Linked DNA regions of Homo sapiens: all the other regions are linked to region 1. Evidence: fine-mapped expression QTL. A gene starts in region 1. Each other region holds a variant in brackets. All regions are shown on one strand. Distances are from middle to middle. Region 1 holds the start of ASPH (aspartate beta-hydroxylase). Region 2 overlaps ASPH (aspartate beta-hydroxylase). Region 3 has its middle 25 kb from the start of LINC02842. Region 4 holds the start of LINC02842 (long intergenic non-protein coding RNA 2842).

Region 1 (7,727 bases):
TCAGGATGGACAAAATGCTGTTGAACTGAACACAAAATAGCTGACGGTTCTTGCAGTGGAAGAATTATGGTCCTCCTATGTTTTCATCTTAGAATGAGTAATGGAGGATTAAGCAATTGGCTCTGATGGTCTTTGGCTAAAGAAAGAAAATTTTGCTAGGGCCTCTTCATTCAAGGGCTCCACAATGCAATCAGCAGTGTATTGAATCCCTCAGTTACTTAGTAATCTAAGAGACACTCAAAGTAGAAAGAAAAAGGAAGCTAAACTAAACTCAGAAGTGTGTTTCTAAATGACAAATACTCATCAAATGAAGCTGTTAATGTTTTACAGGCAGTACAGGAATATATTTCATTCTAATTAAGCCTAAACAAAAAGGCTGCTCAATCTACTGAGACACCTTGAGAGAGTTAAAAAGTAGCTAAGAGTTTTTAAGTGCTTATCTATCAATAGTTTTGAGTATATACAGACGGATTAAATAATAATTAAAACCTGCTGTTACATAACCCCAAGCTTCAAACTAAAAGGGGGATATATTCTACAGTGACACCTAGTGGCAAAAGTTAATGTAGTAGCAGGACACCCAGACAAAATAAACAGGGAGATGGAAAGCTGCTAGGAGATACAGGGAGTTAAGGGGTGATACTCAAAAGGGAAAAACTAAACAAACAAACAGAAAACATTACACATACGAGTGTCTACAAAATAAGCCCAAAAGGACATCATGATCCTTCTTTGTCAAACTATTTTCAAATCAATAAATTTGAAAAAGGCTTCCCCTGGGCCCAACTGGCCATGCAAGTCCAGTTCTATATGCAAAATAAAGGTAGGAAGTCTAATTTATTCATGTTTCTTTTATATTATAAAGAGTAAAACTGAAAAAAAAGTAAAATTGAACTCTGTAGAAAACCATTTTATCATTTTTCAGCTTAAGCTGAAGAAAATAAAAAGCAGACACTTGCTTTAAAAATCTGTGATATAAATTCCCCAAATTCCAGCTTCCAAACATCACTTTTCAGCAAAAAAACCACCAAGATAAAGTTTGGCCAGGAAAAAAAAAAGAAATCACCTTTTCCCTAAAATGCATGTTTCAAATGACTGGGTTCTTTTTTCCCCATACGTTTACACAACAACTTAAGAAATAATAATGTTTAATGTGACCAATGCCGTCATTTTCTGACTCTCAATGTAAGACATATCAAAAAACGTACTATTTGAACACATATACTTCTTCTCAAACTAAAATTTCAAATAGTGTTTCAAATAGAATTTTTGTCAAGGGAAATGTAATTGGTGATAGGACAAAAGCATAGTTTTCTCCAATAATTAAATGTAGTACTCATGGAGACAGCCAGAAGAAAACTTGATAATCTAGTTCAACTCCAATTACATACTAGAGAACCTAAAATTCAAGCATGGCAAAATGAATAACAAAACCTGGGTTCTTAGTCTCGGTTCTTCCAGTAATTAGTTGAGTTTCCATGAACTAAACAACCTTCAATGAACTCGGCAACTTCTCTGGGCATTAATTTCCTCATCTGTATGATTTGAGCAGGAAACTAAATGGGTCTCACAGTATGACACTGCTAAAAAGTCTTTGATTTTCCCAGTAGAAGGAAATGGTTCGCACAACGTCCGTACTTTAATGACCAGGTAAACAGCATTAAAAGAAAAGCCGGCTTTATCTTTCGAGTACAGCCTACTATACACGACACTGTACTTTAACTGTTTAGGGTGATGGAAGGAAATGGTTTCCATACCCAGTGCCTTCTATCTGGCACACAGTAAGAACTCAGTATCTACTGGAGAAAAAAAAGAAAAGGTTGCGGATATGCGGATAAAGAATACTCATTACGTCACATGCAGGGTTCCAATATCAACTTTTGTTTTCGTATCACGGGCATTCCTCCCTTTTACATATTCTTTTACATACTATGTCTGTTTCATGACTATTAGAGAATCAACGTGTAAAATGCTTAAAAGGCTGTAGATCCTCAAATATGGGCAGAGTTTGTTCTAAAATGCCTGACTATGAAAGTCAGGAGAAGTTAATTTAAGTTACTGCATTTTCTAAACCTATCTCTTGCCTGTTAAAATGCTTCAAATAGTTATGGGGTAGGTCTAGAAACGTGAGACACATTTCCCAGTATTAGTTCTCACCAATAAGAGGCCATATAAAGTGACTTCCCTCAGATGCAATCAGCCCTCTCCTCATAAACACAAAAATGAAATGGAACGAAGACATGCTTCTCTGGCAAATAGCTACAGAAACCTTTTGAAAACAACTAACATTAAAGTTGTTCATCAGCTTTCTCTGCTTAGTGCCCTTAGAGGCACAATGAGAAGAACCCATTCTCATTTAGGGATGTTAAAAAAGAGTAGCCTCAGTCGGCTGAGGCAATTAATCTATCCCTCTGCAGGTTTAAGTAAGTGACATTTAAGAACAAGTGAAAAAGGAACACAAACTTTCACTTATGTCAAAGGTGAATTAATATGCTTGCATTGAACTTCAAACTGTGTCTACATCTTTACTTTTAGAATACAAATATTAGTCCTTAGAATGTAAATTTGTGCAATGGATTTAATGCACTACTTTCCCCATTTAAATCCATTCATTCATTCACTACTCAAATATTTATTGAGCACCTATTATGGGAAAGGAACATTCTAGGAGCTGGGGATACAGAGAGAATGAGCCAAAGACAACACACATGAAAGTAATAAGACAAGTTCAGATAGTGACAAGTGCTATAAAGAAAATACTTCTTTGACTATAGCTGATTCATTTTCTTGGTATATTATGAATGCATGATCTGAAGATCTCAGAAAACAAAGAGTCTAAATCACTTCAAGTGAAGTTTACAGCTCACATTCCATACACATGTGTATTGCAGTTTCAATATCCCAAATATGAGTCAAAGGAAGTATAAAAGAAACCAAGAATCACTGAAATATGAGACGAAACAGATTTAAAAATCTGTTCTCTCTGCTGGATATGCACACGGACGAGGAGAAAGGTGAATATCCAATCGATTTTTATTTTAAGTAAAAGTGGTAAAAATACAGACGCTCGTTCAGTATTTCATGACATTCTATTTTAAAGGCAACTGCAACGCATATTAAGAAAGCTACATACAAGCAAAAATATTTAAAATAATTTCTGAGAGCATTCAAATCACTCCCAACTTCTTCCCTCCCCCTGCCCCCCGGCGCCCCCATTTTCACCTCCTTTGAGTTGCTCTGAAACGCTGCTGGTTAGGCAGGAACTCACTTTCCCTGACTTTGGCTCATTTTCAACTCCCCAAAACACGCAAGGCAAACGATAAATTGTTCTCTTACTCCCATGTTCAATTCCACGGAAAGCCAAGAAACAGTCGTTCAGCAACCTCTGTCTCGGCTGCGCCCTGCAGGTGAAGGAACCGCTGGGAAGGGGCTCCCCGAGACTAGCATCCCGAGGGCTCGGACCCCGGTCCGCCTGGCCCCTCGCCCGCCCGCCAGGCCCGCCGAATGCGGCCTCCGCCCCGCGCGCCTAAAGGAGGAGCGTCGCGGGGGATGGAGGCGGCGCGCGGTGGGACCTGGGGAGATGCACCCGCAGCGTCCGCCGCGCCAGCCGGCTCCCTACCCCGAGGCGAGGCCCCAGATCCCCGCCCCGCAGGGCCTCTGACCTCTCCGGGCCCCGGGGCTGCTGCTGCCCGCACTCGTGCTACCGCTGCCGGAGCCGCTGCTGCTGCTGTTGCCGCTGCTCTTGGCATTCTTACGCTGGGCCATTGCACGGTCCGCGGGGGCTGGTGAGGGCTGGCGGACCTCCTTCAGTGCGCGGGGGTACACACGCGACGCGGGAACCGCTGGCGGCGGCGGGCCGCTGGAGCGGGTTCGGGCCGCTGCTCCTGCAGCAGACCCTGTGCCTCAGCACCGCCTGCAGCACCTGGGAAGACTTCACCCGCCTGCCGGCTGCGCGCGCCCGGCCTCGCGTGTACGAACCTGTGACTCCCTCCCGGGGCGAGAGCGCGCGGCTCGCCGCCCGACGGCCACGCCCCTTCCCGGCCTCGCCCCGCCCCCGGAAGGCTGAGTGACGGCGCCTGGGACCCAATCGCAAGGGCCCTTACGAGGCGGCGGTACCCTGCCGCGCTCCCCGCCCCTGCTCACTTAGGGCTGTTCGGGCGCTACGCAGCTGCCTGTGAGCGCGAGCCTCTTTCGGCTTTCCAGTTTGTCTCGGTCCTTTGGAACGTGGCAAACGTGGAAGCCGAGAGGGCTCTCGCGAGCGTTGGCAGACCCCGCTCCATAGGGATGGGACAGGGCGCGGTGCGGAATAGGTGGACACGTGGGCCGCCCGTGGGCGGAGTGCGCCGCTTCTAGGCCTTTCACTGTGGATTTTGTCCCCTTTCCGTATACAAGGAAAGGAAGGAGTGCAGTCTCGCTTCTTGCGAAAGAGATCCCTATTTCTTGTCCTGATTAATACTAAGACATTTCTGGAATGGTGATATTAGGACTAGTTCAATGCTTAAACCGTAGTAGTTCATCCATTTGGTGCTGAAGCAGGAATTTAGTTCGTTTGTGCCATCAGTATTTTCAGATACTCTTAGTTAAGGAATGAAAATGCAAATGTGACACAAAAAGTTCATTTTCTTACCCTGGATGGCACCCTCTGTCTGAAATCCCTGGCTGCTTTGCTAACGCCTGGGCCTGTGCTGCCTGAGAATTCCCAACAGAGTATTAAAATGTCTTGGCACGTGGTTGAACCAGACAAGGACTTGAGATCAGCGACGTCTTTATCATCTTTGTGTCACCATTGCTAACACCATGCCCAATGTGTAACAGGCAAGCAAGAAATGCTTAGTGATTTGATACATTTCTGTCAATTGCTGAACCCACAGCTCTTGATCATGTTTCGTAGCAACCCCTGGGAGTGTCTCAGGAGGGCTCAGGGACCAGAGAGAGCAGTTGCATTGTGGCATCTGGTTTCATTCCTCTTTTCCAGCCCCACAAACCCACCCACCCGCGCCTTCAGAAGCACTCCCGCCTCCCCCCGGCCCCATGCCTTTTCACCTGTGGATGGTTGGATGCTGCTTGACCCTGCCCTGATGATGCACAGAAACCCCCCAAAGGTCATGTTGCAGAATAAAGAGAATGCCTTTCTTTACCTTTTGTCAAATAGTGTTAGGCTATTATCAAGAGACGGTGGGAGGGGAGAGTTCACAGAGTTTTTATTGAAGTAGCTCTCTCAGCTTTTATCTTGTGGCATCTCCTTCTGCATCCATATATCCTTTCTCCCATTCAGGGCCCCCTTACAACCCTCTATTATATTATCTCAATGAAGGAGGTGGAGAACTGGATTAAGAAATAAATCTGAGTGATGGTGCTTCATATAAAATAAAAATGAGAGCTAAATTTCAAAACACAATGCTCTAGCCACCCCCCACCCCCCACACCAAAGATATTTTTACCCTTAAATTCTCACAAAACCCTGTAGTCATATCAATTTTTTAAAGAAATTAGATACTGGAAGCTCAGAGAGATAAAACAAAGTAGGGTCACTGTATTAGTCCGTTTTCACACTGCAGATAAAGACATATCCCAGACTGGAAAGAAAAAGGGGTTTAATTGGAGTTACAGTTCCACATGGCTGGGGAGGCCTCAGAATCATGGCAGGAGGTGAAAGGCACTTCTTACATGGAGGTGGCAAGAGAAAATGAGGAAGAAGTAAAAGCAGAAACCCCCAATAAACCCATTAGGTTTCATGAGAATTAATTCACTATCACGAGAATAGCACAGGAAAGACCGGCCCCCATGATTCAATTACCTCCCTCTGGGTTCTTCCCAAAACACATGGGAATTCTGAGAGATACAATTTGATGTTGAGATTTGAATGGGATCACAGCCAAACTATATCATTCTGCCCCAGTCCCTCCAAATTTCATGCCCTCACATTTCAGAACCAATCATGTTTTCCCAACAGTCCCCCAAAGCCTTAACTCATTTCAGCATTAACCCAAAAGTCCACAGTCCAAAGTCTCATCTGAGACAAGGCAAGTCCCTTCTACCTAAGAGCCTGTAAAATCAAAAGTAAGCTAGTTACTTCTTAGATACAATGAGGGTACAGGTATTGGGTAAATACAGCCATTTCAAATGGGAGAAATTGGCCAAAACAGCGGGGTTACAGGGCCCATGCAAGTCTGAATTCGAGTGGGGCAGTCAAATTTTAAAGCTCCAGAATTATCTCCTTTGACTCCAGGTCTCATATCCAGGTCACTCTGATGCAAGAGGTGGGTTCCCATGGTTTTGGGCAGCTGCATCCCTGTGGCTTTGCAGGGTACAGCCTCCCTCCCAGCTGCTTTCACGGGCTGATATTGAGTGTCTGCGGCTTTTCCAGGTGCACAGTGCAAGCTGTCAGTGGATCTACCATTCTGGGGTCTAGAGGATGGTAGCAGTCTTCTCACAGCTCCACTAGGCAGTGACCCAGTATGGACTCTGTGTGGGGGCTCTGACCCCACATTTCCCTTCTGCACTGCCCTAGCAGAGGTTCTCCATGAGGGCCCTGTCCCTGCAGCAAACTTTTGCCTGGGCATCCAGGCGTTTCCATACATCTTCTGAAATCTAGGCGGAGGTTCCCAAACCTCAATTCTTGACTTCTGTGCACCTATAGGCTCAACACCACGTGGAAGTTGCCAAGGCTTGGAGCTTCCACCTTCTGAAGCCACAGTCTGAGCTGTACGTTGGAGCCTTTCAGCCACAGCTGGAGTGGCTGGGACAGTCACAAAGCTAGTAAGTGATAGAGGAGGGATGTGAACTTGGTTGGACTGGCTCCAGAGTCTATACTCCAAATTATTCCTCCTGGATAAGACATAGTTTTGAGTGGAGAAAGTCTCACCTGGCTCCCTTTTCGGTTAATGGATGTCTCCAGGAAGCCTCCTTGGTCCTACCTTCAAAGATAGGTCTGAAACCCAGTGGTAAGTGCTTATCAAAGCCTATCTTTTTAAGGAAATCAAATTTGTTTTATAGCTAACTCCAAAATGCCATTAAGTGATGCTTTGCTCCTGCATTTCCAGAAACTAAATCTGGTACCCCTGACAAGGTACATTGCTGTGTATCTTGGGCAATATCAGGCCAAAATAGAGGTTTTAGTAAATATGAATCACAGAAAGAAAGAGGCTACCTAGCGCTTTCTTGTATCCTGAGGAAACAACTATGATAACATTTATGTGCTCAGTATTATCGAATAAAACTTAAATCAGATGCCATCAGTTCTAGACACAGTTTCATTTCAGGGACTGAATTCCCTCAAGCTAAGTAACAGAACTATACATTTTATATCTGTCTGTACTTCCCATATTATGGGCATCAAAAAACGCAAAGCTTACTTAGGATTCATATATTTCTTTACAAAGGACATTTTCTCAGCATGGTTGTGAAAAAGACAAAGTATCTTAGTATCTTTTAAATTAAAGGAGAAGTCAAATGTCCCTTGTTAGCTTTTCCTCTTTTCTGTAATTTTCAAGCAAACTATGGGTGAAATAATGTTAAAAGGACCATAAAGACAAGACTTATCTAGGACAATTTATTAAAATACTAATTTAATAGAGCTTTTGAACTAGGTCAAATGTGTCTTTCAGGTATTTCCATAAACCTTCCACTGCCTTCAGTGGGATTTGCAAGTGAGAACTGGAGGACACGATTTGCCCTACTTCTTTTTTTTCCATTCTGATGACCCTTTACAACCTCCAGTCAAATTC
Region 2 (7,727 bases), 71 kb before region 1:
TCCCCTTTGGTTTTTCGTTTCTCCCACTCAATCTTCTTTTTCACTTCATCTTTTTCTTAGCCGTCCTTAAATGCTGGCTTTCTTCAAAGTCCAGCCATAGAACCACCTCATGTCTCCCTCAATCTGCTCTCCTTAAGGGATCTCAGAGCTTGGTCCTGATGACCACGTAACTACTCTGATGGTTCCCACACTCACAATCACGAAGTAGACTTCTCTTCTGAGAGTCAAACACCACCAAATGGCTCATTTGATCTCTCCTCTCAGATGCCTCAAAGAAATCTCACTATCATCATGTAAAGAACTGGACTCATGAGCCCCTGCCCCGTGCTTGACTCCAGTCTCTCCCACGTTAGGAAAAGAGCACCCCCTGTCACCAGGCTGCAGAAGCAGAAGAGTGTATGTGGCTCTTGGCACCTTGTTGTCTCCCCCCAGCTACACCCATGCATGAAGACCTGCCAATTTTACCTTCTAAGCATTTCTCAACTTTGCCCACTTCCCTCCTCCATCATTGCCACCACCCTTGGTTTAAACTATCATATCTGTCCTATCCGTCCACTGAAACAGTTCCAGCTAAAGTCACCCGTTGAGGCCACTGCAGCGCCAGATCAGGGCAGGTTTTCAGCACTCATCTCACATGGTTCTCAGTAGCGCAGGGCACCACTGAACATCCCTTTCTTGAAACTCATCTCCTTTGGTTCCTTCAGACAGAGAGAGATGTGATGCACGGAAAGACCCAATTTGGATGATTACAGCTAACTTAACTGTTCTCCCTGTATTGACTCTTGTCTCTCCAGTCTGTTTGTTGCATGCCAGACCGATCAATCTTTTCAAAATGCAGATCTGACTTGGCAGTGCTCAAAGGTGAAGATGAACGTCCTTGATCTTGCTCACAGGCATCCTCTGAACCCAGCCCATTTCACCACCTCAGCCTTACTCTTGCAAGTTCACGTCAGAGACCTCATACGACTCTCCAGTCACCTTTCTCCTTGCCTTGTCAATTGTTCTCACCTTCAGCTCAAACTTCAGGAAGGCCCTGCCTCATCCACAAACTAGGTAAGGTCTCTTGATTACATATTCTTGTTACCACTGTACTTGTTCTTCCTAGCACTTATCACAACTGGAAATGAAAACTACAGTGAAATTGCTTGTTTAATTTCTACTACCCTACTAAAATATAAGATCCATGAGAACAGGAACCATGGGTGTTCTTCACTAGAACTGCTCCAGTGTCCTGTGTTTCAGACCGAAGACACTAAACAGTGTATGAATAAATAAGTCAATTACATGGTAAGGCCATACTGTCACTTCCCAGGTTTGTCCAATGTAGGCATGATGATTTCTAGGTTATCTTTGATGTAGAAGCTGGTTCCTACTATAGTTCTATCGAAGTGTATGTTCTGGGGTTTGCAAGTTTCATACAGAATATATTCTATTCTCCCATTGAAATGTGGTTTTGTTTTCACCCTACTTACAGCTTCACTTACATGTCAGTTACTTGGTTTCTCTGCTCTGATTCCTGAATTTTCACAAAGGTATTGTTTTAGCATATAGTGAATAATACACTGTTCAATTAGATCTATTTGTTTGAAACAGTTTATGTTCTATATAACAAAGAAATCCAAAGTAGCTTACCAAATCATGTCAATCTCTTAGGTTATATTTACTGCCTTTTGCTAACATTTTAAATTACATTTATTATGATACTCTGCCCTATGAAAACATATAACATTCTTTTCGCATGGTATCTAATTTTATACTTCTTATGAGTTTGAATTTAAATTCCTCTAGATTTAGTCTTCAAATTGCATTCCAAACATGTTCTTTATATTTTTAAAAACATTATAATGATCAGTAGAAATGAGGAAAATATCTCAAATCCCATCATTACATGCAACTTGTATTTATAAATTCCTATTTTCTCCTTCAAATTCAAGATTGGAAAGAAAATCTAAGTGCAATCTCAAGACCAAATTATTCCCCAACCTTCCCTCGGCCCCAAATCTTCCTGTGAACACATCAGGTCCAAATTCTTTAACTTTTCATAAAAATTATCAGTACCTTAAAGACACAACCTAGGATTTTTCCCATGGTGTCATTCATATCCCATTAGAAATAGCCACTATAGATGATGAACTTGGTAGGGTCTCAAATCTTAAATCATCATATAAATATGATTCATATTTATAAACACTCCTAATTTTCTTCAATTGTGATTCACTATCTATCATGACACTGTAAACTCCTTGAAAGGAGGGACCCTATGTTACTCATAATTGAATTCCAGGCCCTAAAACCATCTAGAACATAGAAAGTCCTCCATATCCACCAACTCAATTACGATGTATTTCTTCAT[C/T]GTTCTTGCTTTACACATAAAGTTATACCCAACTGACTTCTCTCTTTCTACATAATCATCTTTGAGGATAATGGAATAAAAAGGATATATTATTGGTTCTATTACTTCTTAGCCATACATTCTTGGGCAGCTTATTTATAATGTCAGAACCTTATTTCTGTCCTCTGGGAAGCAGGGAAAATAAAATCTACTTCATGGAGTTCAACACAATAGTCTATGCAATGCTTGGACACAAGAGGAGGGAGGTACAGGCCTAAACTGAATCAGATGCTGCTGATGCCACAAATTTGCCAGAACTGTTTTCTCCATACTGCCTTTAAGCCTGGAACACAGTGCTTCTTAACCTTCCCCAAGGTGACAAATCAGTCATCTTTGAGAGTGGGATTAACCTGTAGAAGCAGCTAGAGCAATTTAACTCCGGCTAAAGTAGTTGTTCATGCATATTTTAGTCAAAAGAGACACAACTATAAAGTACTGAGATTGGTTTTCTTGAATGACTGTAACTGCCTCCTAAGGCAACTTGTAAAGAGTTTAAGAAATTATTTAGGCAATGGCAGAAGCCGTGGAATGGGTAAACAGTCTCCCCAAGTGAATTCTTTGAACGCTACCGTTCATCTGGATGTTTTAAGTTGCAAAGTTTATAGTTTAAAGCATAATGTTCCACATCTTGTAGTCAAACTATAGGTATATTTTAAAACAAGAAGGTGGCTTAAGGTTAGAAAGCATTTGCAGGCCGGGCGCAGTGGCTCATGCCTGTAGTCCTAGCACTTTGGGAGGCCAAGGCGGGAGGATCACCTGAGATCGGGAGTTTGAGATAAACCCTAAAATACTAAAAATACAAAATTAGCTAAGCGTGGTGGCACATGCCTGTAATCCCAGCTACTCAGGAGGCTGAGGCAAGAGAATCGCTTGTACCCAGGAGGCGGAGGTTGTAGTGGGCCAAGATTGTGCCACTGCACTGCAGCCTGGGCAACAAGAGCGAAACTCCATCTCAAAAAAAAAAAGAAAAAAAAAAAAAAGAAAGCATTTGCAAACCTTGTTCCTCATAGACTTGGTATGTTACATCATCTGAAAAAAAAAAGAGAATAAAAGCAAAATAAGTATTAACTGAGTCATTCTATACAATTGTTCAGTTAAAACAAAATACTACTTAATCGTAAACACAGAACTCTACTCCTTCAAATATTAATGTCTGCTCAGTCAATAATAAATGCCTCTGCCCAAAAGCAATTAAAAGGCAGGTAAATTATTTTCATTAAAATTTCTCAAATTGGCACAGAGGAATTTGATACACAAAAACAGCATTAAAATTTGACATCCTGTTTTGTTATGGAATGGTTAGTTGATGAGGTGAAATATGAAAGCCTGATATTCTTATAACAGTCTAACTTTGTTATAAAACAAAATCTCATGCATTAGATGTCGAAATTACTTCTTTGATGCCTTTAAAAGAAAAATCACCATGTAAACACAGCATGTGATTGAAAAATCTAAGGTAATATTTTAAATCTAATGAAAATGCTCATCTAATACCTGTATCATGGTGCAATCTTTCATCTTCTACTACTGGTTCACTGGAATCTAAAAAACAAAAACACACCTTTGCCAAACAGGAAAAAACCAAACACATTGCCAGACAGCATTCTAGGAGATTCATAAATTAATTATCTTCACAACTTTGCCAGATAGATGTTTTCATTATCATTTAATAAAATTTAAGCTGAATAACGTTCCACAATTTGATGCCTAAGTCAAAAAGATAGGAAAGAGTAGAAATGGGATTTGTACCCAGAATGACTTTATAGTACATCATACTGCCCCTTCAATTTTCAAATATTCTTTCCAGCACCTTACCTACAAAGACCAAAGTCTCAACAGTGGTTTGAAAAATACGTCTCCTTTTTCTCTCATCCCTCTATGTAGTATTAAACTATATTCAGACATTTCTATAAACATCTGACCAATCAAAAGTGATTATAAATACCATACAGGGATCTCTGTGTTGAATCACAATTGTTAACCCTGGAATAAAACGGCCTTGGCCACTGCCTCAATCAGAAAACACATATCAATAATTTTAACATTTACAAACCTGGATTTTCCTGCTCAGACATCATCTCTTCCATATCCTGATTACAGTCTTGTGAAACTATAAATTATGGAATAATTAGGAAATTACGTCTCAAATAAGGAATACATGTAATATTCGAAACCAGAAAGACACAATTTCTAGTTATGATTGAAATGCAAAATCAAGTCATAATGATATTCAAACATGTTCACTCCTGAAACAAATAGGTATTAAGTGTGTTAAATGCCAAATGCAAAGATGAGTAAGGGGGGCCTGTCATCAACTGGTTTACACTCAAACCGCAAAACAGTAAAGTGCTGACAGATGATGCGCCCACCTCCTGTGGCCATGCCCTTTAAGGGCGCTGGCATGTGACAAAACATGATTTAGACCTTTCGTTGACTCTGTAATTGAAAGGTACAAAACATGCAATTCAATTGTATCTTTTGAACTAGTAATCCTACTGAAAATTTATCCTCAGGAACTAGGCATCAAAACACAAAAAAGTATATTCACAAAGAAATACCATAAATATAAGACGTAATAAAATTATTAATTGCATATCTTGCATATATTAATTTAAATATATCATTAATAATAGATATTATGTATTTTATGATGCCCTTTTAAAGGAAGACTCACTCTAATTAAGAACAGAATTAAATTAAAATCTCACCTGTCTCTTCCACGTGGTAACTATGCTCGGTTTCTGGAAAAAAAAAAATTAGATTGATATTTACTGCTTTTACAAAATGGTATGTATATATCCCGTATATGTACTCTGAATCTATGCTTATCATTAATTTTATTTAAAAAATTAAAAAATGGGACTATCAATTAAAAGTCTGCTTAACACTTTTATATTTCACTAGAAGTACACTGTGGGATGTCTCACACATTCTCCTTCTCAGTCCACTCATCCCCACAAGGCTGACAACCACCACCCCCTGGACTAAAGAGAGAGGACAACTTAGAGTGACACAGGCCAGACCAGGAAAGCCGTTCATTTCTAATCCACTTCACAACCCACTAGAATGTGCTATCTCCTCGACCTGTCCTACCATTTTCTAGAGCGAAAGTACAGCAACTATGGATGGGAACAGAGAAAAACAGCTGAAGAGGCTTTATACCCTTAGGGAGCTGAAGGGTAAATGTGTTGAACACTTAACCCATACACCCCAGATAGCAGAAGAGCTATCTGTCCGTCACCACACTTATGACCTTGCTAATTTTATTTAATGCATATATAAAGAATAAATATTTTTATTTTCTGAAGACTTTTAACAACCAACTTTTAAGTTCAAACTGCATCTATGTCCTAATTAAAGATGAGATCAGAAAGTAAGGTTTCTGCAATTTGTGAACTTCTTAAAAGTGTTTCTTCCTACTCCCAATCTGTGACTCCTAACTTTAAGAATATCAAATTCCTCATGCTTCTGTTTATTTCAGCATCTTAACTGAAATTTGTTGTATAAGCAGCATGTAGATAGAAAAATTCTGAGCAACTGTCAATCTTACTGAGCCATTTAGGCCAAAGACTGGAGAGAAGAAGCAACAGGAAATGTGGAAATCATTTTATCAGTATCCCTACTCAGAAACTGGAAACCTTGTCCCAAAGAAATCATGACATAAATGATTACTAAAGGCATAAAGTTCTGAAGGTAGTCTATAAGTGCTTATTTTCAATGTGTAATGCAGCAAAAATAAATCATATAGATGTTCAAAAGGATTGTGTGCTTGTATTTTTCACAGAAAATTATGCATTATATACAATTCTTTTGAAAACCAAACCATCCCATATTTTTATGGGAAAGTGCATTTCCTGTTCTAAACAATAGGCATGGATATAAGTTTTTGGAAATACATGTACTCATAAAGTAGGAGCTACCTGCTGCTAAAGTAATTTTCCAAAATATTTAGTATTGTGCAAAGTAGATAAACTACTTTTCATTTTTATGCTTTTAAAAAGTGTTTGCTAACTGGACACACAATGGCTCATGCCTGCAATCCCAACACTTTGGAAAGCTGAGGCAGGAGAATTGCTTGAGGCCAGGAGTTTGAGACCAGCTTGGGCAACATAAGGAGACCTTGCCACTATAAAAAATTTAAAAATTGGCAGGGCATGGTAGCATATGCCTGTGGTTCCAGCTACTTGAGAGGCTGAGGTGAGAGGACTGCTTGAGCATGGGAGGTCAAGGCTGGAGTGAGCTGTGTTCAAGCCGCTGCACTTACCAGCCATGTTGGGTAGGATTTTACAAATAAGTTGTATAAAAACACAGCTACACTGACCCACTTAGGAACTATCAAAGGCTGCTTTTACGCTGTGATGGCAGAGTTGAGTAGCTGAACAGAGTCTGTACGATCCAGAAAACCTGAAATATTTACTCTCTGGCTATTTACAAAAAAAAGTTTGCCAATGCCTGGTACAGAAGCTAAGAATTGTGTTTTGCTCACTGTAATTACAGAGTTCATGTGTGAACATGAGCCTGTGATAGATTATCAAGTCCAATATTTCATCAGTTGTTTGAATTTTATTTAACAAATAGCACCCTAAGCAGAAGAATATAGTAAAACTAGTTTCCTCAAGTATTTGACTCACTATTTATAAGAAATTTGTATATTCTGAGTTTCCCTGAAAAGTGCTTTGAACCAAAATCAAGGTATCTATTTTAAGAAAAAATTTGCTTTAATTGAAGCTTTAAGCTTCAACTTTTAAAAATCTAAGCAAAAGTTAAATATCAGTTTTAAAGGGGTTTAAGAAAAACTTCAGTAATTAGAAGTCATTGATTATATTTTATCCTAAAACTTGAAAAAAAAGTGTTCTACCTTCATGAGATACTTCAGGTTCCAGGGTCTCAAATCTATCATCTACATCAGTCGCCATAAGAAACTCATCATCCTCTTGTTGTGGTTCTCCTGTGGGTCCATCTTCTTGTTGCAAGTCTTCTCCCTCAACTATGACAATGAACAAAGTGACACTGGCAACATACAACTGAGACATGAAAGCCCCTTGTGAAGGGCTGCCACACACCTGCTCCTGCTGCTGGGGCTTCCCCTGCCCCTCCTTTCGGCCGCTGAAGACACCATTGTCCACTCCACAGCTATTTTCTTCCTCTGGCCAAGTGCTAATCTGCCTAAGTATATGTGGTGGGGGACAGGTTTCCTCTCATTAGGATGTTACACATCAGGACAGGAAGCTTATATATTTTATCCATTATATATTCCCAGTCACCTAGGGCCATGTCTAGCTAAAGGAAGCACTCAATAAATATTTGATGAATGAATAAATGAATTCATAATTAT
Region 3 (7,727 bases), 46 kb after region 1:
CCTTTCTGGCTTGGCTTCCAGGGCCCTGCTGCCAGCCTTTCCCAGCTGCCTCTGCTTCCTTGGCCTTTCCCAGCTGCCCTGCTGCATGGCGCCGCTTGCTGGTGGATGGCATCGCATCTCCTTGCCTCCTATTCTTTATCCTTAGCCTTGTGTCCTAGCACCTCTGAGAGCCATGATTAAGACAAACATTCAGAGGCAGGCAAAGCAGAGATAAACTCATTCTTTTATGAATACAGACCTGACTGGCCACCTAAAGGAGAGATGCTTGGGAGTCGAGATTGTGTCCCCATTTATTTAAACCAGTATATCACTATAGTTAACAGCACAAACTTTAGAGTCAGAATGACCTGGATTTGAATTCTATATTATAAATAAAGCTGCTACAAGTGCTCTTGTACAAATCTTTTGGTGGATATATGTTTTCATTTCTTTAGGGAAGGATTTCTTGAGTGGAATTGTTGGTCAGTAAGTATTTGCCTAGTTTTATGTAATGCTGCCAAACTTTTCCAAAGTGGTTGCATCACTTTATTTTCTGCCATTGGATCCTGGAAAAGTTAATTCCACCTCTTTGGGCATAAGTTTTCTTCTGAGGGCAATGGGGATAGTAATAGCTACCCCACAGGATGTTGAGAGGATTAAAAACAAGATATTATGATGTTAACGGAGAGCATGACACAGTAATTTCTCAATAACAGCAAGCATTCTTTTTTTCTTTGTTGTCATTCCTGAGTTTTTGAACATTGTATTATGAAAAATTTCAAGCCTATCAAAAAACTGAAAGAACCTGGTTGTGGTGGCTCATGCCTGTAATCCTAGCACTTTGGGAGGCCGAGGTGGGAGGATTGCTTCAGTACAGGAGTTTGAGACCAGCCTGGGCAATATGGTGAAACCCAGTCTCTACAAAAAATACAAAAATTAGCTGGGCATAGTGGCATGTGCCTGTGGTCCCAGCTACTCAGGAGGCTGAGGTGGGACAATGGCTTGAGCCAGGGAGTTGGAGGTTGCAGTGAGCAATGATTGTGACACTTCATTCCAGCCTGGGCAATAGAGAAAGACCATCTCAAAAAAAAAAAAAAAAAAATTGAAAGGATAGTGAGCGCCCATACACCAACTTGTAGACTGTATAATTCACATTTTACCTTTAATTCATCACCTCTCTAGCCACACATTAATCCACTCTTAATGCATTTTATGGTAGACATTAGTATATTTCCTACTAAATACTTAATCATCAATATATGTAATCTAGTTAATGTATCATTTATTAGAATTCAATATTTGTTTACAGTTCTTTTTGTTCTCTTTGAGGTAAAATTCAGAGAATAAAATGCACAAATTTTAAATGTACCATTCTATGAGGTTTGACAAACTCAGAAAGCTATGTAACTCAAAACCCCAAGATACAGAAATTTTCTTCACACCAGAGAGTTCTCCCTTATCCTTTCCTAGTTAACCATTGTCCTTACCCACTCTCAACAAGGCAACCATTTGTTTTCATTTTCTCAGGTATATAGATCAGTTTATTTTGTCCTAGAACCTTCATGTAAGTGAAATCCAGTATGCTCTCTTTTTATAAGGCTCCTTTTACTCAGCATGTTTTCATATTTTGCCCATGTTGTATATGAGAGTAACTGTTCCTTCTTATTGCTGAGTATAATTAGTTTATATAAATATGCTAGAGTTTGTTCACCTATTCTCTTACTTTGTATATATCTGGACTGCTTTCTTTTTTTTCTATTATAAATAAAGCTGCAATGAATATTATTTTGTAATATTATTTATTTTTATTTTTTTCGTAGAGACAGGGTCTCACATAAATCCCAGGCTAGTCTTGAACTCCTGGACTCAAGCAATCCACCTGCCTCAGTCTCCCATCAAATGATGTGTTATCAAGGTTGCTGCTGTAGACAGCAAGGTTCCATTATGGCAGGACTTCTGTAAAACATACAGAGTGCCTCCAGGAATTTTTTGGGTTATATGTTTTCGTTTCTTTTGGGGAAGTCTTATTGAGTGGAATTGCTAGGCCAAAAGTGTTTATTGAGTTTTTGTCTGTTTTGTTTCTGTTTATTTACTTTTAATAATTTTTTTAAGAGACTGGGTTTTGCTCTGTCACTCAGGCTGGAATGCAGTGGCACTATAATGGCTCACTGCAGCCTTGACCTCCTGGGCTCAAGCAATCCTCCTGCCTCAGCCTCCTGAGTAGCTGGGACCACAGGCACACACCACTATCCCTGGCTAAGTTTTTTTTCATAGAGACAGGGTCTCACATAAACCCCAGGCTAGTCTTGAACTCCTGGACTCAAGCAATCCACCTGCCTCAGCCTCCCAAAGCGTTGGGATTACACGCATGAGCCACTGTGCCCGGCCTTTATTGATTTTTATGTAAAACTTCTAAACTGTTTTCCAAAGATTATGACCCCATTTATTTAAACCAATATATCATGATACTTAACAGAACAAACTTTGGAGCCAGAAAGACCTGGATTTGAATCCTATATTATAAATAAAGCTGCTAGAAGCATTCTTGTACAAATCTTTTGGCGGATATATATTTTTATTTCTTTAGGGAAGGATTGCTTGAGTGGAATTGCTGGGCCAAAGGTATTTGCTTAGTTTTACATAAAGCTGCCAAACTTTTCCAAAGTGGTTGCATCATTTTATTATATCCAAAGTGGCTGTACCATCTTATATTTCCATCAACAGTTGCTCTATACTCAGATTAGAATTTGATGTCATTACTCTTTTTCATTTTAGCCACTTTAGTGTGTAGTGATTTCTCCTTGTGGTATTAATTTCCACTTCCCTGATGACTAACGATGTTAAGAATTGTTAACACACTTATTGGTAATTTGTTTGTCTTCCTTTGTGAAGTGTCTATTCAAATATTCTGCCCATTTTGTTTTAAGCTGGACTGTTTGTATAGTTAATATCCTTGCTTGCAGGACACGGGGGAATGAGGCAGCCACATAGTCTGATGGAAAGGTAAAGAGAATGAAAGAGAGGGAGACAGGTATCTTTGACAGCAAGTCCCAAAGTCGCTCAGCTATCACTCTCCTCTTGTCCATGGACTGTATTCATGTGGGCAGTTGCTGGTTTGCTGTTTGTCTGGCTGAACGCAGACATAGCGCCTGCTCATGATGTGAAGATTTGGCTCACACAAACACAGTGGTGAATGTCTTAGTTTTGAGTTCTCCCCAAAGCAAACTGAGACCAGAATTCAGTGCAGGGAGTTCATCTGGGAGGTGATCTCAGGAAGCCAGGGTGAGGTAGCAGAAGCATGAGTCACAAAAGGAGGAAAAATCAAATGATGTGTTATCAAGGTCGCTGCTGTAGACAGCAAGGTTCCATTCTGGCAGGACTTCTACAAAATGTACATAGTGCCCCCAGGAATTGTTCATGACAGGACATTCATCCTCTGGCTGCTGTGGCACAGGCTCCCCTCCCCTTCCAGGTCTTTTGCAGGGTGGGCAGCTACTGTGGCGTCTGAGAAGGCCAGGACCAGAAGCGCATGTGAGCTCTCACCGAGCGTGGGCCAGGCAATGTGACTGGAAGCACCAAAAGGGCTTTCTAGAGTGAGAGTGCTTATTGCTAGAGTGAGAGTGCTTACTGAGGATTTCCCACGGGAGATCGTAGAGGGTGTCCCATGACCCCCTGTATGTGAACAACTTCACAATCACTGCAGCTTTCCCGCAAAGTCACCTCCTGGCTTAGTCACTGCTGCTCTTCCGCAAAGTCACCTCCTGAATTAGTCACTGCTGCTCTCCCGCAAAGTCACTTCCTGGCTTAGTCACTGCTGCT[C/G]TCCTGTAAAGTCACCTCCTGGCTTTGGCAACCAGGGCTCCTTTTTTAGCCTCCACCCCCAGCTCCTCCCTGGAACCCTCTCTCCCGCCTTTTGGATTCTACACCAAAGTCAAATTCTCCCAACTCCTGGGAAGAGCGGCCTCTTTCCTGGCTTCAAGTCTGGCTTCTAGCGGTCACAGGCCTGAGGCTCAGCTCCTACCCCAAAGTAGGTTTATCCACACAGCTGCCTAAAAAAGGTAGTGACAAATAACATTTCTTCTCATTATTGCACAAGTTTTCCACAAGCCCGTCCTGACCATATCTTGGATGGATTCTTCAGTCCACTTGGGCTTTTATTCTTGCTAGTCACCATCCGGCCTATTCTGTGCTCCACTGAAATACATCTGTTATCCTGTTATGGACAGGAGCTCTTGTGTTTTTCCCAAGACAATAATTAGGTCATTCAATGGTGAAATTCCTGCTAAGAGCGGTGGCCCAATGACAGTCCTGGCGAGTCAATCTGCTCGTATCTGCCCGTGCCATCTCTGTGCCAGCCTCCCCACTCCTTCCCTCCACTTCCCCTGTACTTGCACTTCTTCCTGCACTAGGTCAAAATTTTGAATTTTGTTTTTTTTTCAATGTCTCTTTAAGTCTGCCTTGATCCAGGAATTCTCTTGTGCTTTGTTCATATGGCTAGCAGCAAACCTCCCTATATTTAACTGAATATATGTCATTTAAAAAGCATCACTGAGTATAATTATCATGGTGCCTCTCCCTTTTTCTTTCTGCTGACATCTGTTTCAAATCTTCATCACTCCTAACTATAGATTTCTCTTTAAGATATTGCTTCAATGTGGCTTTCCTATTCTCGGAACAAATAGAATGGAACTCACTGCATTCTTTTCCAGCTCTTTTGGGTGATGTAGGACAAGGCTGCAGGAACTCAGCTTTTCCAGAAGTAGAGCATGGAGCCATATTAGCTGGAGGGTTGCTGAATGGTTCCAGGTTCAAACATCAGCATAGCAAAGTCATTATGAGCACAAACTCCTGTGACTTACTCAGCTGTGTGACTCAGGGCAAGCAACATAATATTGCTGTAGCTTGGTTCATTCTTTTTTACAGTGGTAGATACAATAAAGTAATACGCATCTCACAGGGTCGAGTGGGTGCTAAAAGAGTTAGTAGATATCAGGCACTCCAGAGGTTGCTTTATACAGCAGGCACTCAACCTTTGTTTATTACTATCATGTTGCTCCACCAGAGAGTCACAGATTTCATCTCTGGGGTCACTTGATCCCTTTGCTGTCTGCAACTTTTGTAGCTTGGGAGGAGCTTCCTTGACAAGATAAGGAATTTATTTATTCCTCCAGCCAGTGGGATTTCCGACTGTCCGGGGAGGTGGTTTGGAACTAAGACTTAACATGAAGAGAAAATACTGATATATTCCATGGAGACGATCTATTTTCCATTTCAACTTGGAAGACTAACACTTGACTGTCTCACCAGTGGAGGCAGCAAGAGGGTGCATAATACAAAGTTTCTGTAAGCCTTGTAATCTCTGACCACTTGGTACAATGAGAAGGACTGTAATATATTGGATGCTACCAGTTTTTACTTTATGGGGAAAGTTTTTCTTCTATTTTTACAGAATAGTCATGACTTTTACACTTTGCACCTTCAGAAATCTCTAAGTCAGAAAATAAGCATTCTCTGCATCCTGTTCTTTTCTTGACTTTACACTATTACTGAATTTTCATTTCAATAGTTTAATAGTAGCAGCTAACATTGACCCTTTATCATGTGCCAGGGACTAAGTGTTACACAGTTAAGTTCTCATTTAATGTCCTAGATAGTTTCTTGGAAACTTTGGCTATAAGCAACATGACATATAATGAAACCAATTTTCCCACAGGCTAATTGATATAAACAAGAGTTAAGTTTCTATAACATCACGAAGACCTCACCAATCTTCAAAATAAAGACCCCCTAAACACTTCTAATACTAAAGCTAAAATAAATGTGAGCTATACATACATTTAAGAAACGTTAATAAAAACAAGGAAGATAATTACCCAATTATTGCAGTTCAGGGTCACGGGTGGCCAGAGCCTATTCTGACAGCTCAGAGTGCAAAGAGGGACCTAACCCTGGCCAGGAGGCCATCCTATTGCAGGGCCCAGTCATATAACAAAACCACGTTGAACAAATGGCACTGTTCCAAGACCTGCTGCATATTGAATTTCTCATTCAACCCTCCCAATGAGCCTGAAGGAGGCCATATAGCATAGCAATTCACTGTGACATCTCCAGAGTTTACCAGGGGCCAAGTCATGGCTTGCCCACTTACTTGTCTCCTGATGGGAAATTTATTTAGCCTCTATGTTTCTCTGTTTTTGTTTCCTCATCTAGCAAAAGGGCTTGAGTGTATTTTTTCATTGGGCTATTGTAAAGGATTAAATAAAATATTGCAAACAGTGTTTGAAACTGTCAATACATATGTTATGATGAAAACAGTGTCAGAAATAGGTCAACAAATACATGACATAATTAGGCAGATGAAAGAACTGAGACTAAGTATAGGTGATTCAGTGGCTCCAGGCACACAGCTAGTAAACTAAGGAGCTGGGATTTGAAAACGGCTGTACACCGCCAAAGCCCATACTTGTGACCTCTATATCATTGTATGTTATGAAAACCAAAACTAATGAAGTTTTCATTCATGTGCTAAATAATACTGTGATCAGGCAAAAACAACGTAGCTACTTACTCCTGGAAATAAGGCTCCTGAAAGACAAGACAGTGAACCGATTCAAACTCCTTATTCATCAATAGCCTTTAAGGACCCTCTCCTCACTACAGCTACCCATTCAAAAATATTATGACATACATTTCCCAATCCCAACTAGAGTCTTGCTTTGCAGAAAATCATCCAACTCAGAGTTGCCCTCCAAATGCTATTAATATTCTCCCCTGACTTCTCCCTTCTGATTCACTACTAAAGCTGTCAAAGAAGTCTTTTCCCTTACTGCAGCAAGCCTAACCAACTTAGCTTTGTTTGAGCAGCAGATTTTTCTGGTGATATTTTGGGAAGTCAGTACTCAACAATACTTAAACTACCACTGAGATTCACTAAATTCCCCCTTGCTGCTGAGGCTCAAGACTCCTCACTCAGGAGAGGGTGCTACCTTGGGGCCTCTGAGCCTTCCACTCAGAAATCTCTCCAACCGTAAGATAGGTAGGGCCCTGATTATGTCTGATCTCCTGATTTCTTATTTGCTCTTGCTTGAGTTGATTTTCAAATAAATTCATTTTTTCTCCTAGGAATGAGGAATCATTTTAAGTATCCTTCCTTTAGATAATTAAATTTGAAAATTATTATTCATGGTGAAAACCTGCCTAAATACCAACACTTCCTCCCTGTTTCCTGCTGTCCACACTCCTCCCTTTCTCCTGTGAGTCTGCAGGAGGAAGTCTAGAGAGAGGGACCACACGGGCTCTCGAAGTCCGTCTTTCAGACCACTCCAAGACTGACGAGTTCAGTCTCATGAGACTGATAATTTTTTGACAAACTTTGGCTTGGGATACTGTTCAAAAACTTGTAAGAAATTTCCATTGTCTTGTCTTTGCATCCCTGAGAAATATTTTATTTAGTTTCTTCTGCCCACTGTTGGGGGTTTCCTTGGGCCTCTTATCAGTGATGACTGCTCTGTGGCCATATGCTAGAGATAAGAAGTGGTACAAGACCCATTCTTACTGTCTGCTGTAGTTCTCATGGGCTCTACTCAATGTGTTTGGCCCTCTGGGACAAACACCTGCTCCCTTAAAGCTTTCATTTAAGTGCATGTCTCTGTCATGACTCCACCATGGTCAAACTGAAATTGCAATGATCACTTTGAGAAAATTGTAACATAAACATGATTGTCTATTAGAGATACACATTAGAACAAAAA
Region 4 (7,727 bases), 73 kb after region 1:
CAATGCCCACCTACACTGGGGAGGGCCATCTGTGCTACTCAGCTCACCAATCTAAATGCTTATCTTGTCCAGAAGCACCCTCATAGACACAAGAACTAATGTTTTGGCAGCCATCTGAGTGTCCTTTAACCCAGTCAAGTGGACACATAAGATTAACCATCTCTGTGGATAATCCACATTTTTCCTCTCTTGTAGACTAGATGAAAGGGCCTTCTGTCATCACTAGAAATGGCACCATAGTCTGACCCAATGCAGGGGAAGGGGCAGGCTCTGACTAAACTGCTAGTGGGAAACCATCCAGTCCGCTGGACTCTCAACACTGCAGCACTTCTGCTACTTTAGATGTTTCATTATGAAGTTTGTGGCATTTAATACCCCTCCAAGTACTTCCATGCACATCATTGGAGATGGCGTAGTGAGGAAGTGATTTTCACTTTGTTTTACAGATCCCAGGGTGAGGGAGGGGTTTTCACTTTGTTCTACAGATCCCAGGGTTCTGTGGGGGATTTCTTAGCATCCACACACGACTTAAACCACACCAGCTGGGTTTGTCAATCTATTTATTATGAAGCTGGGTACTCTTTAGATAAAAGGCTTTAACTGCTGAAAAAAAAGTTTAGAAAATATGAATAAAATGCCTTAAAAGCCTGTATTTTACTCCTGGCTTTACACTGTCTAGCCCTGTGGCCTTGGATGTTTAACTCATCTAAACTGTAAATTATCTAACTATAAAAGAAGAGTAGTAACATCTCACAGGGCTCTTAAGAGAACAAAAGTTCATAAACATAAAACTTTTATTGGAATGCCTGACACTTAGTGCTCAAAACACAGTGGTGGTTGTTAATACTATTGTAATGTTATCAGATCTAGAAGTTTAGGAAGAGTCTGGAGTGGTCTTCAGCATTATGAGGTCATAGTTATCCTTGTGTCCAGCTTTAGCATAGAGCAGAGTCTGCTCCTTAATGCATCCCTGGATCATAGCAGACTCTGCCTATAGAGGCCTGGGGTCCCTTTGGCAGCACTTTTCTCAAGAAAGTAGAGTCGTGGACAACCAACTGCACAGGTTGGGAGGTAAGAACTTTTTTTTTTTGTATTGAGAGTAAGCTCTGGGGTAACATAATGGTGTAGTTTGCTTTAGATACTTATCTTTTTAATAAACTAAGCTGGGTGAGCAAGTGTTTTGGAAAAATATCTTAGGATCCTGAGAGAGCTAAAAAAGCCATGGAGAAATCATTACAGGATGCATTTTAGTTTTGTGAATTATATTTAACACAAACTGATTAGTTCATAAAATGATTTACAGATGCAATAATAGCTACCATATTTTATCACTTTACTTGCATTTTTAAATTCCCATTCCCATAACACATTGCAAGGTAACATTGTAAATATGAAAACACTGCCCTATAATCAGAAGCAGAAGGTGAATGAGGACCCAAGTCTTTCTGACTCTAAAACTCATGCAATTTTTGCTTTACCCCACCTATAGTATCCCAGAAAATGTCAACATCCTGGAGGATGGGAGCCCCTTTTTGGGGATAGATGCTCCAGGTGTATCTGCTTAGGTGGGACTTACACTTCACTTTCCCTGGTGCCTTGCCCCAGTGCCTCCTCTTCACAGCAGATTTGATCAAATATGGGCATCAGACAGGTAGAGATCACAGCATCTTCCTCTGTGCCAATCTTGGGACTATGAAAGAGAGAGAAACTCACCTTTCTCATTTTCTCCCACCCATTCCTCCCCTACCTAGTCCTTAATTATAGCACAATCAGACATACTTTTACAGAGAACACCAAAATTTAGAGCCAAGGAAATATGTTTATACTGGCACCATCCCTGTGGCTTATCCCTGCAGGTGTCCTCATAAGGATTGTTATTTATTTAATATTATAATGTCAAAATTTAAACTACAAGGAGATGTGCACTCTCCTAGAAGCACTTAGATTTGGTGAATATTGAGCCACACCCTTTCCTTTGTTGTTGGCACAGAGGCACGATATCTCTGTAGGAAGATAATTGCCAATGAGTGAGTCATTTTTTTTCTAGGAAAACTTACAGCCTCCATCACTCTTCAGGAGAGTGGCAGTCAAGGAGTAAGACTCAAGGAAAGGTCAGTGCTTGGTTGAGAGCCTAAATCTTTACCTTGGGTTGCAAGTGAACATTTGGGAAGAGCCCATGGCCTGGAGAGAGAGCTAGTGGCCAGGAAGAGCAAACAAATGGATTGCCACTGCCACCTGCCACATTGGGCTGCCACTGGCAGAGCTGCTGAGTCTGCAGGTGCAGTGATTATGCTGTGAAAGATTCAAATAGGACAACCCTATGTAGCAGTGGCCAGGGGGCAGGTGAGTGGTGTAACTCTGGAAGGGGTTCTTGTTATTTTCAGCTGGGATTCCAACAAGATAATGACTGTTGGTACTAAAAAGAGCTTGAAACAATTATCTTTCCAGAGTTTTCCTAGAAAACTAATGAGCACACAATGTCACCATAGAAAACTCTAGACCCAGGTCAAAAGGCATTTGGCTTGTAACTATCACTACAGAACCAAGTAAACAGTCAAGAATAATAAATGCCTGGAATAATAAATAGCAGCATAATCAATTGGTAAAAAGCTTCCTGAAAAATCACTGTTGAGCATTTGCAGATATAAAGGTTAAGAATTTAGTACAAATAATAGTAAAGTCCCCAAGGGAACATAGAAAGAGGGGATAGCTTTGTGTTCAAGATCATGTTTCACAATTATTTTTCCACTAGGTGAGTTATCATTATCCACAGCTCATTTTTCTTCTTTCTTCCTTCAAAATATCCCAAGTTAACATATTCATATGAGCCCCCTTCTTGAAGAGCCAGGGTCCTGGGCATTGTGTGTCCCAGGGATCTGGTCAGGTTCAATGGGAAGTTTCAAAGTTTCGATGGGTGTGTATGAAGAGGGCCAGTCCTCCATGGCCTGCACTTTCTGGAGCCCAGGAGGGTGACATAAATGGGAGGTCCATAGGGAGAAATTTCAGATGAAAATCAGGTAGATCATGGAACAGTTGGCTTGAGACAGCCAGACAGAGTGGGAGGATCCAGGTTCAAGGAAAAGGTACAGAATTTTAGGAAAATGGATGAGAGCAAGTGGATTGTGAGCAGTGGCTGGTTGGGAGAGCCTGATGAATGTTCTGAACCTAACACAGTAGCCGCATCCTACTCACAAGGACACTGGGCTTCAGGCATTTGTGGTGGGAGGAGAGGTACTGGCAACCTGGACACGATAGAGTGTTTCAGTGCTCCATTGCTGGGTGTCTGCCCTCTGACAAGGCAACAGTGGTTTACTCTTTCTCATAATTCTGTGGGTTTGCACTCTAAGTGGTTCTTCTGCATATCATGAATGGCTTGACTGGAGCTGGTGGCCAGGCTGGCCTCACTTACATGCCTGACAGTTGGTACCGGCTGTTGACTATGGCACTTTGTTCTCCCCATGAGGCCTCCCATCCTCCACTAGGCTAGAGTCAGCTTCTCCACAATGTACTGGTAGCAGGCTTCCAGGAGAGCAAGAGCAGAATCTGCCAAATCTTTGAAGGACTAGGCTTTGTGATTTATAGGATGCCTTATTTTATGTTCTGTTGGCCAAATAAATTTGGAGTCAGGGCAGATTCAAGGCAGCAGAGCAATAGACTACCTTTTGATGGGAAGAAGAGCAACCACACATTGTGAAAGAGTGTGGACATGGGGAGGTCTGATTCATTGGGGATCCTCATTGTAACACTTTAACACAGGGAATATTTTTCTTAACATGGCTTATCTCTTTTGGGGTATGCATTATGTTACATAGATTATCCTGGTCCTTTATGCTTATTTTTGATGTCACATAGGCCTTTCAAAATTTATTCAGTAAGCATTTATTAGGCACCTGTTATTTTCTTGGCAGTGTGCTAGATTCTGGGGATATTATGGTGACCAAGATTATAGGTAATCTTAAAGGAATTTTCTTTTTATTTCCTATAAAATCAGGTAAACAGTGAGTCTATGGGTGGGGTAGGAAGGGGGAGAAATACAACAGGAT[A/T]TAACAGGATAGAAGGGTGGCAGTAGAAAGCTAGCAACATGGTAAAGTTGGTTGGAAGAAGCAGGATTATATTCTCTGATGTTTTCAAAAGCTACCAATAAGGGATGATTTCATTGTTCTAGACATAAAATTAATTTTTCTTTTTTTTTCAGGAATAATCTGAGTTTAAAGAAAGGAGGAGTCAGTGCTGGGATTTCTTGGTTCTAGTGGAAAGTAGTTTTTTAAAATTTAATTGACAAAAGTTATATATATTCAGGTACACGATGTGATGATTTGATATACATGTACCTGTATAATGATAGCCACAACCATTAATTAATGTAACCATCACCACCTATAGTTACCCTTTTCTATGCGTGTGTGTGTGTGTATACGTGCATGCAGTGAGGACACTTAAAATCTACTCTTACAAATTTCAAGTAAACAAGGCAGTATTATTTACTGTAGTTCCCAGATTGTACATTAGATTTCCAGAACTTATTCATCTTTTTTTTTTTTTTTTTTTTTTTTTGAGACAGAGTCTCACTCTGTCATCTAGGCTGGAGTGCAGTGGTGCAAGCTCGGCTCACTGCAACCTCCATCTCTGGGGTTCAAGCAATTCTCCTGCACAGGCACGTGCCACCACGCCCGGCTAATTTTTTTGTATTTTTAGTAGAGACTGGGTTTCACCATGTTAGCCAGGATGGTCTCCATCTTCTGACCTCGTGATCTGCCCGCCTTGGCCTCCCAAAGTGCTGGGATTACAGGCGTGAGCCACCGCGCCCAGCCAGAACTTATTCATCTTATAACAAACTTTGTACCCTTTGACCAACATCTCTCCATTTCCCCTATCCCTGAGCCCCTGACAACCACCATTCTACTCTCTGCTTCTCTGAGTTCAACTTTTTTAGATTCCACACATAAGTGATATCATATAGTATTTCCACATATAAATGAGACCATATAGCATTTTTTTCTGTGACTTTTTTATCCCAATTACCATAAATGTCCCCAAGTTTCATCCACGTTGTTGCAAATGACAGGATTTTCTTCCTTTTTATGGTCCAGTAATATTCTACAGTTTCTTCATCCATTTATAAATTCATGAACATTTAGTTTGATTCCATACCTTGGCTCTTGTAAATAGTGCAGCATTATTTACAATAGCCAAGGTATGGAATCAAACCAGATATTAATTCAACATACTAATTTCGTTTTCTGTGGATACATACCCAGAAGTGGGATTGCTGGATCATATGATCTGTGTAGGTTTGTGTTGCTGTCTATGCATTTCAAGTACCAAATACCTCTTTCAGTCTGTATAGATGGTTCTGTAGATAAAGGCCCTCTTCTATTAGGTCCCCAGGCTGACTCTGAGATTTCCTCTGGGATCACAGTTGAGCAGGGTTAGAGCTAGGTCATGTGGCTTCTACTGAGTGCATAGTGAGGTATAAGGTAGGTGAGCCTATTACCCGGGCTCAAGCAAACATGGATCCTGTCTGGGCTCTGGGTGGACTGGGCTGCCCCCAGAAGCATGGCCAGTAGGGCTGGTGCTGAATGAGGGTCTACTTCTGAGTCTGTAGATGGCAGTCCTATAACCTGGTATGTGGATAGGTGTGGCTTCCTCCAGGTTTCTGGATTGGTTTGCTCTGGGTCACTGGGTGGGTCCCTGGGCAGGCAGTGCTGGCCCTCAGCCATGGCTGAGAGGGGCTCGACCTGAGTCACAGGGCTGCTACAGGGTCCACAAATGAGACCGAGGTCTGCAGGGCACAGACCCTTGGGGGACACAGATGAGTGTGTCTCTCTCTGGGGTCCTGGAAAAGCAGGCTGCTTTCAGACTGCAGCTGAGAGGAACTAGAGCTGAGGCTCAGGGCTATTTCCAGGATCTGCTGATAGTGGAAAGTAGTTTTAATGCCCTGGGCTATCTCCTAGAGAAAGGAAATGTCCAGTGATGACTCAGAACTACAGTAAGCCAATTGTGGGTTATCCACGACATTTCCCAAACTCAGAGTCAAGGCCAAACCTGTTCATCCAAATAATTGTGCCCTAAAGCCTGCACTCCTGGAGCGATCCCATATGGACATGGAGCCATGGCCTGTTTCCTGGGTATGGCGGTGAGAGGAGAACCTCCTGCACTGGCAAATCTGATTGGTGCAAATGTGCCATCTGTCACTTGTCTGGCCCACAACTACCCCTTCAAGCATGCCGGTGTGGGATGAAACATAGAAAACAGAGCCCGGGTCTGCTCAGTCCTTTGTTACACTGATATGGCTGCCAGGTTGCCTCACACTCAACTATGAACCACCAGGGCTTAAAACAAGCAGAATCTCATAGTTTCTCAAATCTTATGCCTTGTGTTGTGTAAAAAAGTCAGAAAATACACTGTCAGCTGGCACAATGAAAATCTAATGGATTTACTAATTTTTAAATAAGATTAAAACCCATTGATAATTTAAATAATCTATTTTCATAACACTTCATTGCAAAAAAACTCAATGTTTTCTGGACTTTCTTTGTGAATTTTTTTTTTTTTTATTTTGAGATGGAGTTTCACTCTTGTCGCCCAGGCTGGAGTACAATGGCCTAATCTCGGCTCCCTGCAACTTCCACCTCCTGAGTTCAAGTGATTCTCCTGCCTCAGCCTCCTGAGTAGCTGGGATTACAGGCGCCGGCCATCACTCCTGGCTAATTTTTATATTTTTAGTAGAGACAGGGTTTTACCACGTTGGCCAGGCTGGTCTCCAACTCTTGACCTCAGGTGATCCACCCACCTCAGCCTCCCAAAATGCTGGGATTACCTGCGTGAGCCACGACACCCGGCTTTCTTTGTGAATTCTTTCAATATTTTTCTGAGGCAGATGGAGAACAAATACCTCTATTGCAGGTGCTCAGAAAATCTACTGTGGGGAATTATATTAAGAAGAACCCAGCACATGTCTTGCTCCACACAAGCACTCAGGTTCCCTGCACTAATGTTAGAATGGTCCTAGGTGGGCGTTTGCTTTCTGTGAAGCCCCAGCTGCCTTTCTCACAGTCTTTCAGAACATCTGCCAGTGCTACCCAAACAAATCCTGGTGTAGTTAGGCAGTCCTAATGTAAATGCTTAATAGAGGCATGGCATTCTTGTTTGATTACTTTACTGCTGCAAAGAAATAGGGCCCAATTTAACATTAAGCCTGTCATTGGTGAACAGTGCTCTTTTGCTAGTGTAAACAAAACCCCTTGCATTTTGACAATAACATATTCAGAATTTAAATTAAACTAAGCTAGAAAATTATAACTGTAGGGTAGCAACTAAGTCATTCTCACACAGAATGTTTGTAAAATGTAAGTTGATGGCTGGACATGGTGGCTCACACCTGTAATCCTGGTGCTTTAAGAGGCTGAGATGGGAGGATTGCTTGATCTCGGGAGTTTGAGACCAGACTGGGCAACATAGCGAGACCCCTGTCTCTATAAAAAATAAAAAAAAATTAGCCAGGCATGGTGGCGTGCACCTGTAGTTCCTGCTACTTCAAAGGCTGAAATGGGAGGATCACCTGAGAGGAGAGCAGGATTGTGTCACTGCACTCCGGCCTAGGTGACAGAGTGAGACCTTGTCTCAAAAATAAAAAAATAAAATAAAATAAAAAGTAAGTTGACATCGCAGCTTAGTAGAATTGACTTTATGGGAAGGAGGTGCGGGCACTGGCTGTAAAATCTTTT

Evidence for each region.
Region 2: its variant is fine-mapped to the expression of ASPH in whole blood (TOPMed, PIP above 0.99).
Region 3: its variant is fine-mapped to the expression of ASPH in whole blood (INTERVAL, PIP above 0.99).
Region 4: its variant is fine-mapped to the expression of ASPH in whole blood (TOPMed, PIP above 0.99).

The regions. Positions count from the first base shown.
Region 1 is chr8:61,710,607-61,718,333 of GRCh38, forward strand. ASPH (aspartate beta-hydroxylase) reads right to left here and starts at 3,986. Exons shown (of 25, transcript NM_004318.4): 1 at 3,663-3,986. The coding sequence starts at 3,765. MIR4470 (microRNA 4470) reads left to right here and starts at 4,182; the gene lies at 4,182-4,253. RefSeq lists silencers at 3,356-3,785, 3,826-4,195.
Region 2 is chr8:61,639,500-61,647,226 of GRCh38, forward strand. It overlaps ASPH (aspartate beta-hydroxylase), which reads right to left. Exons shown (of 25, transcript NM_004318.4): 6 at 7,251-7,379; 7 at 5,101-5,133; 8 at 4,446-4,502; 9 at 3,887-3,934; 10 at 3,389-3,421. Among named protein-coding and RNA genes, the nearest start is that of ASPH, 71 kb to the right of the region's middle. The variant C/T (reference allele first, on the strand shown) is at 2,354.
Region 3 is chr8:61,756,573-61,764,299 of GRCh38, forward strand. No RefSeq gene overlaps it. Among named protein-coding and RNA genes, the nearest start is that of LINC02842, 25 kb to the right of the region's middle. RefSeq lists an enhancer at 3,205-4,404. The variant C/G (reference allele first, on the strand shown) is at 3,799.
Region 4 is chr8:61,784,086-61,791,812 of GRCh38, forward strand. LINC02842 (long intergenic non-protein coding RNA 2842) reads left to right here and starts at 962. Exons shown (of 5, transcript NR_187554.1): 1 at 962-1,071. The variant A/T (reference allele first, on the strand shown) is at 4,044.